2 separate regions of the Homo sapiens genome follow, and region 2 is linked to region 1. Evidence: fine-mapped expression QTL. A gene starts in region 1. The other region holds a variant in brackets. All regions are shown on one strand. Distances are from middle to middle.

Evidence for each region. PIP is the estimated chance that this variant, and not a neighbour inherited with it, causes the effect.
Region 2: its variant is the best candidate, but not a certain one, in a credible set for the expression of SPATA6L in aorta (GTEx, PIP 0.88).

Annotation. Positions count from the first base shown.
Region 1 is chr9:4,663,228-4,668,614 of GRCh38, reverse strand. It overlaps SPATA6L (spermatogenesis associated 6 like), which reads left to right and starts at 2,135. Exons shown (of 12, transcript NM_001353486.2): 1 at 2,135-2,403. The coding sequence starts at 2,365. PLPP6 (phospholipid phosphatase 6) reads right to left here. Exons shown (of 1, transcript NM_203453.5): 1 at 3,357-5,387. The coding sequence ends at 5,352. RefSeq lists silencers at 2,207-2,286, 2,297-2,346.
Region 2 is chr9:4,058,498-4,063,884 of GRCh38, reverse strand. The region is part of intron 4 of GLIS3 (GLIS family zinc finger 3); the gene reads left to right. Among named protein-coding and RNA genes, the nearest start is that of GLIS3-AS1, 160 kb to the right of the region's middle. The variant C/AC (reference allele first, on the strand shown) is at 2,565.

The DNA of each region.
Region 1 (5,387 bases):
GTGAGAGGGACTGGGTGTGTATAGCAACTGCCACATCTCCACAGCAGCTGAGAGCCTCAGGTAACCATGGCGGGGACAATTAGGAGAGTGTGAAGTATCCCCATCAACTCATTTAATATCACCATAGCAGATTTGCAGAAGTAGCTGTGCCTGGTCCTTTCTAATTCTGCAGATTTCTTTTACCCATTGTGATGGGACCTCTCTTTATCCATGTACATTAACCCCCACAGATTGGCTTGACCATCTCTGCATTTAATATTCAAAAATATTTATTATCTTCTATCCTATTTAGGGTATAAACGCTTAGCCATGCAGAGTTTACAGATTAAGGAGACAAATAGTAATCAAGAGTCACAGGAACAAATGTAAAACTGCTATTATGGCAGTCGCTACAAAGAGGAGATATATATATTTATATGTATGACATAAGATATGATATTGAGATTCCACCTTGTCAGCAGAAGAGAGGTCTTGGTGGGGTATGTAAATCTGTATACATGTGTTAATCAATGTCTGCAATGGATGACACTCTAAGTAAAGGGTATAGAGTGAGGAAAGGAAAGGACCTAGAAACATTGCTTAGCCAGAGGAGGATAAACAGACAAAGAAAGAATAGCCAGAAAGTTGGAGGGAAACCAGAAGAGAGCTGTGCCCTAGCAGCCAAGCAAGGAGAGTCCAGTTAGATCAAGAGTTAAGACTAAGAAGAGCATAGAATGGAACATTGTGTCTCTAGAGATCAACAGGATGTCTATATTGCAGACCCAGTGATGTGGTAGGGCACACCTGGATTCAAATGTGGCTGCTCCCTTATTAGGTCTGTGGCTTTTAGTAAAAGGCTGTCTAGCTTCAGATTCTGCATCTGTAAAATAGGGATAATATCTCCCTGATAGAGTTATTGTAGGGTTGAGATGAATTAGCATACGCAATGTGCCTAGCACTTTGCAGATCCTCAGTAAAGACTGATTCTTCTCTCCCAATACAACTCTGGCTATTTATTAATTTGTTTTGCTTGTCACTCTCCTTGATTTCTTAGCATTGGTGTTGGTGACCTACCTGTTAGGATCATCACAGGTCCTGTCCCACATCACTCTGGGTGTCAGCAAGTTGTGAGTGACAAATCAATGATCTGGACACTATAGATAGTTAGGTGCCCACCTGTATCTCTTGATATGCAGAGAGACACAGCACTAGGAACTGGATAAGGATACAATATGCCCTTCTTCATCATACCAAGTTTTTCCCTTCCAGGGAAATAAACTCCAGTTACCAAAATGAATACCCAATCTTGTCTTGACCATCCTTCTGCACTATTTCCAATTGTATAACTCTCTAATGCAAAATATTAGTAATAAATGACTGAACATAATTTAGGATTTAAAATTTTTTTTTCAGAGGCAGCATTGGCCTTCCTAGATTTTTTGGATTGCTAGAAGGAGCCACTACCTGCTCCTTTCCTTCATTTTTCTCTATTAGATGTAGTGAATGTCCCCTACTCATTCAGAACTCTTGCTCTGCGCACCACCTCTGACAGTGTTTACAGTAACTGTGGTTTTGGCAAATGCAATAACTACCCATTGGACTACTCAATGCTTGCCTTAAACTAAACCCCAGAAAAGGCTGGACACCGTTATGGAAAGACTGACATATTTCTATTGCTGCTAACAGGGGATACCTAACTTTTAAATATGTTTAAGAATTAACCTTATATTTCTAATTAGCACACGTTTGTTATTGACGGTGGCCATGTTTTCCGAAGCAAACATAACATTTAATAAGCAAAAGAGTATTTTTAGGAACAGGCAACTATATTAAATGAGAATTGTTACAGAAACTACAAGGCTTGGGGTCGTGCAGCTACTAAACGTGTACTATTTAAATTATAACAGACCTATGATCTCATTCTACTTTCAGAATGAAAACGGTAAACATTCTGACATGGTAATTGGGGATAGCAGGAGCTGATGGAAAGAAGATCGGGATTGTTAGCATTTCTCTATCCGTCTAGCACGCCAGACAGGGCCAGTCTCTCCGGCTGGGGGCACTGCGTGGGCAACAGCGACCGTGAGGGCGCGCGTCTGCGCTGGGGCCTCGCGCGCGTTCCACGATGAAGACTGCGCGTTTGAGTGTCCCTGGCAACGCCACGCTTCCGCCTTCTGGAAGCCTGCACTCCAGCTTCGAGTGTGAGAGACCCGTCCCGGTGGGAGGGACCTGGGCTGGGGGGGACGGTAGGGGAACAAGGGCGTGGGACTGGGGAAGCTTCTGGGAACATTTGCTCTAGGTATTCAGCTAAACTAAGAAAAATTGGTCCAAGGCTCGGCACAAAAGGATCTTCTCATTCCAGTCCTTTCGCCCACGCAGGGAACGATGCCTCTGGAGGTGGTGGTGGAGCTGCAGATCCGGGCGGTAAGAGATCGATGAACTCCCCCTCCTTAACCTCAAGTCGGACTCTAAATAGTCTCAGGTGGTTTTCAACAACCCTCCCCCACATCCCCCACTTACCACAAACACATCATTATCTTCTGGGACAGATCGCACCTTTGTCTTTTTCTCCATATTGGTTTTCCCTGACTTCCTAACCTTTAATTCAGCTCCACCTGTTCCCACTTTTTTTTTTTTCTGTTCTAAAGCTAACATGTTTCTTATCTTTATCATGAATTTTTAATTTCTTTTCAAACAACCCTGCATTAAGTCCAGGTAGAATTTATTTTCTTCTCCTGGATAAAGATTTGTGAAAGGATTTTCAACTTCTTTAAATAACCAGGGAATAATTTTAAAAAGCTCCATCACTTCCTGATTATTTGCCAACTCTATGAACCAATCAGATATTTTCTATGATATTTCCCCTTAGTGATAGCTCTGGCTTGCTAATTCCAAAAGGGAAATCAATCAATCACTATTTCGTAATTACCAAATCCTTCCTAAGTGAAGTGCTGTGGCAGAGTGACTCCATGGTTTCTACTTGGGGGTCTGTCACTCCCTCTTATTTCAGTTTCCATTTTCCAATCCTTCCATGTAGTTAGTAACAGAATATCATGCCGCTTTTCCTCTAGGGGCTTTTCTACTGGCTATGATTACAAGCACAGTGCTAACAGGAAATTGTCATGGAATCTGGTTGTCTTCCATACAATTGGCAAATGGTGTGGTTTCATCATACATGTGGGTGTGAAAGGTGATCAACATTTCCTGGATTTGTCCCACTTTGCTGACAGCAAATAGGGCTAGACCTTATTAGTAGTGCTATACCAGTTTTAAGCTCTAAAAATTGTGCAGGAAGAAGGAACTCTTGAGAAGCTAAGTGATAAATCTGTCTCCCTCCTCATCAAGGCAAAAATTAAGCAAGTTTTCATCTCACTTCATTCACCATTATTTGTTAATTTTATTTTGATTTTTAAAAGGCATTATTCAGTGTACAATTAACAAAGAAATCAGTTTTCTACTCTACTGTACTTAGGATGCTTCAAAAACATCAGGTGAAATGATCTATGCTTTAAGAGCCAGAAAACTCAGGCCTCAGCAACTAAAACAGAGAATTCCAAAATTGTAATTACAAATCAGATGGTAAGCCTAATTTCATGCCCCTAATATTCAGATTTGTGGACACTGCAAGAGGAAATATCATTTGCTTCCAAATATCTGGCTTGAATATTGCTGCAGTTAAAGGATCTCGCTAAGGTTAAACAACAAACCCAAACCACTTAGAGCTTCACAGTTTAGCTGCTTTAGCAAGTGAAGAGGTAGTCGGTATTCAGGATGCTGTGGGAATGCAAATGATTTGATTTTGAGGCATGGCTGTTCCTTTTTCACTATGCCCCTCACTCTGAACAAGCTCATGCTTTCACTCAATCAAAACCTACTTATCACAGCCGTTCTCCAGGTTCCGAACCTCCGTATGGCAGATCAAAGTCCATAATCATTTCTATTTATAAATGCCAAAATAGTCATTAAGATTATCTGAGGACATCACTTCCATAGGTAATTTAAAGGATTTCTTTTCAGGTAGAGCAGCACTTAAAGCACATACCTTCTCCAGTCTTTCTGGGTCAAAGAATAATGAGCAGAGTCCACCCTGCGTTTGGTGGTCTTTGGTCTTATGATTTGGGGAGGCACCATGGATGAACAGCTTTAAATGTAAAGGTCAATGTAAACAGAAATTTTGGAGTTTTATCTTGTGCCTGGTATAGCAGCAGACTCCCATGATGAATTTCAAGTTAAATACTGTTACCTAAAATGTGCTGTACCTCAGAAAACGGAATTCCATGTGAAAAACTGTAGCATACAGGTATATACGAGAAAGCTTATGTTCTTGCATTGAGAAGACGTTCCTTTTCCCCACTTTATTACCCTGAAAGAGGAGCATTATTCTTTATTCAGTGGAGATGACTGGCAGCAGGGCCCCATCTCCTGTCATACTGGTCACTGGCATAATATGTGGTCAGCCTATTCCCAAACTTTCAGTTCCTCTAACTTTCCCCAGCAACTTAGTTTCTCTGCCCTCTCTCATGCCATGTTACGTTGTAAACAAAAATAAGCATGGGGCCATGTCCCATTCTTCCTCTTCTATGAGCATCTTAGATATGCCTACCTTTTAAGTGATTCCTCTTTAAGCAAGTTGGCTTTTTCTCTGAATGCTAAAAGACAGTAAGGGAGTAGTGGGAAATGCATAAAGATCTTTTGAGGGATGGAGGGAGAGGAGAGAAAGACAAGTATTATAATCTCTTTTCCCACTACCCGATCCACAAATATGGATAGAGATAATAAATTATAGAGATAATAAAGTAAAAAAGCTTACCAAGAAAATCAGGATTAAGAAGAAATCTCCCAACTGTGGCAACAGATCTTCAGGGAATAAACTAGAAAAACCTATGTCTTGGACTTTAAAAATACTGTTTAAAATCTACCTCAGGAAAAGGACTAGGATTAGTACATGACCTGTCTGCATGTATATTTACAGAATGAACATCATGTTTCTTTCTCGAAGTTCAGTTTACAAGTGGTATGTTGATTTAGGGATTATCACAAAACACAAATCTTACTGATACCAACTTTTAACAGCAACAGTATAACCACCTCAGCTTGTTTTCTTTGCAGTTGTCCTGGAAACATAAACAGTTGTTGAATAAATATACAATAGAGGATTTTTTGGGTTTTTTTGCTTTCCCTAATATGGCTGTGTTCAGTAATGGCCAGTGTGTGCTCCAGCCTAGCAGCACATCAAGATCATGGGACACCTGAAATCCCAAAGGAAGCCTGAAATGCCTAAGAGGGACAAGCGGGATGGCTGCTGGTTTAGGTTGACATCATCGAATGTGGAAACCTTCAGACTTCCTGGTGCCATAATCAATGAGATGGTGTCATCGTTGACTCCACAGTAAAAAGAGGACCGGAGC
Region 2 (5,387 bases), 600 kb after region 1:
GGGAACTCACACACGTACACTGAATGAGATGAGATCCCATTATACCTTCACTTTTTAATTAGTTGGTAGTGTGTAGAGGTTATTTTTCTATGATGATTTTGTGTCTGACCAACCTACTGAACTCTCATCTGCCTTAATTTTTCTCAATTTATTTTCTAAGATGTTCTAGGTAATCCTTTCTAATATTTGTCTCATTCGTTTTCTTGTTTGTCTTATTTAGGACCTTTTATACATTATTGAGTTCTAGTAGTGAGTTAATAGCAAATATGCAGTACTTCTGATTTTAGTGAATATGCTTTTAATACAACACCATTTTTTTTTTTTTAAATCATGAACTTGCATGGCTCTTACCAAGGGCTTTAAAAGCTCTATTGAGACAATCACCTGGTTGGTTTTCTTATTCTGTTAATGCGCTAAATTACATGAATAGATTTTTCAGATGTTTAATAATCATTCATTCCTAGGGTAAGCCACTCTTGGTGGTAGGATGTGGTTTCAATCTTGTTATGCTTTCCTGAACTGACAGGCCAAGCATATCATCCCCTTTGCAGTATGGTTTGTTACATACCCATAAAAAGTCTCTTCCATATTGAGTTATCCATCATATTACATGTTTTATAAAAGGTAAATTTCACTAAGTGGGGAATAAAAACACATATGAGTAATAAGTAAGAAAGGACACATCTCATACATTTTGCTTCTGGAATATTGTGAAATGTGCAAATCAAATCCCTAGGCAGACATAAGGTGGTGCTGACTCAGATGTACATTTTTCTTTGTGCATTGTTTTTTTTTGCAGATATGGAACTCAGTTTGCCATCTGTATATTAATCTGGTGAGATAAAGAGTCAAGAGAGTTTATTCCAAGTGTTTGGTCCATATAACAGCAATAAGAATTTGTGTCGTTTGCATACTGTGCTTCCTGTGTACTTCACATTCTTTCTTTTTTTTTTTTTGAAATGGAGTCTCGCTCAGTCACCCAGGCTGAAGTGTAGTGGCATGATCTCAGCTCACTGCAAGCTCCGCCTCCTGGGTTCATGCCATTCTCCTGCCTCAGCCTCCCAAGTAGCTGGGACTACAGGTGCCCGCCACCGTGCCTGGCTAATTTTTTTTGTATTTTTAGTAGAGATGGGGTTTCGCTGTGTTAGCCAGGATGGTCTCAATCTCCTGACCTTGTGATCCGCCCGCCTCGGCCTCCCGAAGTGCTGGGATTACAGGCGTGAGCCACTGTGCCTGGCCACTTCACATTCTTACATATGCTATTTCATCTTCACAGCAATTATGGGGTAGGCAGAAGAGTTATAATCCCATTTTATAGGTATGAAAATGAGGCTCAGAGAAAGTAAGTGCCTTAACCTAGATCATACAGCAAATATGTGATATGGTTGACACTAGTCCCTCAAGCCTCTTAATCCTAAACCCAGTATTCATTCTATCTCTGCCTTGGATATTTTGTATGATTAAAGCTAAGCCTTATATGTAGCAGCAACTGGGGTACAGAAGCAAAACGAGTTTAGAACCCCTTCTTTCCTTTTCTTTCCACCTCTCTCCCAATCCCACCAGTATTTTCAATATGGGAAACTGACAGTCGGTCCTCAAGGAACACCTTATACAACATCATGAAGATTTTCATTATGAAATGCCTTTCTCTCCTAAATTAGTCGCTAAGGCACAGGGGTAATGTATCATTTTAATATGACTGTGCATTTGTTGAGCTCCTTTGCGTCAAAGAACGCACAGTCCTTTACAGACATTAACTTTCACAACCTATGTACTTAGTGTGATTTGGCAAGGAAGTAATTCAGTCTTCATATTGTGGTAATGAAATTGTGTCCAGGAAAGATGCTGGGACAGCCTGAAATCTTGGGTAAATGAAGTGAGGACAAGGAGGATGAGGAGTCCTGCCACCTTCCCCATTTTTTATGCTCCCTTTTGCCATGTGACTTAAAGAAGCTCAGATCTCCTAGGCAGAGGAAGCTGTCTCAGGACACCCTGAACACTGATAAACCAGGAGGAGCACGGTAACATGTGCATTGACAGTTCTCATTTCTCACTTGTGGCATTCTTGCATAATTCTTCAGGGAGTATGTGCAGTACAAGCTTGCAGAAAGAATATCATACTGCTTTTTTTCTTTAGAAACATTTCAGGACGTCATGTTGTTGGCTATCATGAAGCTTTTGATAATTCAGATATTTTGCTGAACTTTCATTTGTACCCGAGACTCTAAAAAAGTATCAACATCTCATTTTTACACTAAACTGTGTTAATATATATCCTTTGTAGTTCAGTCTTTATAAGTGTCCAATTAAACCATTTTATGGCTATTTATATGAGGTTCCAAGTCTAGAATGGAAAGTCCTCCTTTTTATTCTCTTCTTATGTTGTGATGTAATGTTAACAGTTGATCCAAATGTCCATCCATGATAGACTGGATTAAGAAAATGTGGCACATATACACCATGGAATACTATGCAGCCATAAAAAAGGATGAGTTCATGTTTTGTAGGAACATGGATGAAGCTGGAAACCATCATTCTCAGCAAACTCTGGCAAGGACAAAAAA[C/AC]CAAACACCGCATGTTCTCACTCATAGGTGGGAATTGAACAGTTAGAACACTTGGACACAGGAAAGGGAACATCACACACCGGGGCCTGTCATGGGGTGGGGGGAGGGGGGAGGGATAGCATTAGGAGATATACCTAATGTAAATGACGAGTTAATGGGTGCAGCACACCAACATGGCACATGTATACATATGTAACAAACCTGCACGTTGTGCACATGTACCCTAGAACTTAAAGTGTAATAGTAAAAAAAAAAAATGGATCAGTAGCCATTATGAAGCAGATGATGCAGAAGTGTAACTGAACCAGAAGAACGGGGTATTGGAAGCATGCAAGAGATAGGCCAGAAAGTAGGAACTAGCAGGCAGGCTCTGAGTCTAGAAAATCCATGGGCAAAGTGGGAGTGGTGGCACATTCAAATGGTACCTGTGAGCAGAGTTGAGAATTTTGATTCCTGGGCAGAGGCTGGATGAACTACAGAGAAGAATAAATTAATATGTCACATGTCTTAGTCCATTTTTCTGTTGCTTATTAAAATAATCCCCAAAACTGGATAATTTAACAAGAAAAGGAACTTCTATCTTACAGTTGTGGAAGCTGAGGAATTCAAGGTTGAGAGGTTGCATCCAGTGAAGGCCTTCTTGTTGGTGGGGACTTCCTCAAGAGTTCTGAGGCACACAGGGTATCACCTGGCAACGGGTCTGAACGAACTAACTCAGGTCTCTCTTCTCTTCTCATAAAGCCACAAGTTATACTCTCATAATCACCCATTAATACATTAACCCATCATTCATGAGGGCAGAGCTGTCATGACCCAGTCACCTCTTAAGGCTCTACCTCTTAAGATACTGCCACACTGGGGATTAAGTTTCAACACGGGGGCAAATATTAAATCATAACACCACCTATTAGTGAGCTGGGAAGAAGTAAAGTTAGGTTCAGTTGAAAGGGATGACCACTGAAGGTGACGAGAAGCAGGCTGGCTAGAAGGAGAATCAGGAACCAGATTTGAGGTTCAAAAGACAATGTTTGTTGAATGGAAAGTTGAAGTAAAGACAGAAATGGGAGGTTTAGTCCATTAAATAGGCAGTTAGTCTTGAAGAACTGAGAGTAGTATGAAGTGAGATATGGGAATTCCACTGAGAGTTTCAGGGTAGGCTAGGATGTCCAAACTCAGAGCTTGCCTGAGACATCTTTCAGTAAAATGCTTGATATGCGCTACCAGGGCTACCAAATGGGCTCACATGAGTTGACCAGGTTGGCCAGGAACCTTGGGTTCCAGGAGGAAGGATGCATTCGGAATTCAACATGCCTTAAAAGTAGGGGTAAGGTTCTGATTCAACATGTGTAGAAAGTTGCAAGGAACCTTCACACCTGCCTTAAAAATGAGAGTAAAAAACAAAATCATAGATTTTTTTATTTTTTGAGCTAGTAGGAGAGCCAGTCTCTCTCTTTCTCTCTCTCTCTCTCTCTCTCTCTCTCTCTCTCTCTCACACACACACACACACACACACACAAATAAAGCTGAGTAAGTGACAAGCCCTTTCAGGAGAGAACAAGCTGAGGCCTGCTTTCATCCCTGGCAAAGTGCTGGCAAGAGGAGGAATCTATCATTGTCAGAGTGAGAAGAAAGTAGCCCAACTTAACTAATTTGGAATGGCCACATGTTGGCTGTTTAGAATAATAAGGATCTCCAACCACAAAGCAATCCCTGCACCAGTCTCCAGGTTATTCCCATGGATGTTCAAGTGCAGAAGGATGGTAGGCAGAAGGCCAAGAATAGGCTAGAAAAGCCAATAGTACTTCTCTCTAAGGTATTTGTGGTTTTTCCACAAAGCAAGGCAATGGCCTGTTACAGGCTGAGAACAGGGCAGGAGAGCTGAGAGAAATCCCATCATGGCACTCTGGCAGTTTTCTGTAGTCACTGTCTGAAGGATGAAAGCAGAGCAGCAGTGCAGAGATCTCCAGAGGTGCCAAAAACCAGGAGTGTAGTGGAGAACAAAGAGAATATTTTAATGACTTAAAAAGCAGCCTCCTGTGCTTTAAAGCTGAGAGAAATATTCCCTAGTTTGGAAAACTGACAGCTTAGCATAAAGCATAGAGAAAAAATGTCTGAAATCTCGTCTGTGCTCAGATCTCAAGACTTGCCAAAAGGTCAAGGCCTGATCCCACCCTCAAAATATTTAAGCCAGTGGTGATTTGAATCTGATTAAAGCTGCAGTAACACTCAGACCTAGATCAACTATAGATTAGATGACTCAGGGTCCCCTTCGTCAACTAGCAGCCTGACAGCAGAAGGTGTGAGGCCTTTTCTTTTTTTCTTTTTTTTTTTTTGTTTTTGAGATGGAGTCTTGCTCTGTGGCCCACGCTGGAGTGCAGTGGCGCAATCTTGGCTCACTGCAAGCTCCACCTCCTGGGTTCATTCCATTCTCCTGCCTCAGCCTCCTCAGTAGCTGGGATTACAGGCACCTGCCACCAAACCCGGCTAATTTTTTTGTATTTTTTAGTAGAGATGGGGTTTCACTGTGTTAGCCAGGATGGTCTCGATCTCCTGACCTCGTGATCCGCCCGCCTTGGCCTCCCAAAGTGCTGGGATTACAGGCTTGAGCTACCGCACTCTATGGTTCTTTTACACAAAATATTTGGCACAAAGTCAGTTATAAGACATAAGAAGGAGCAAGCAAATGTCGCTCTTGGCCAAGAGAGGAAATAGTCAATAGAAGTAGACACAGAGATGGCCCAATTTTGGAATTATTAGGCAGGGTTTAAAATTATTATGCTAAGTACATTCCAGGACTTATTGGAAAAAATAGATAACATGCAG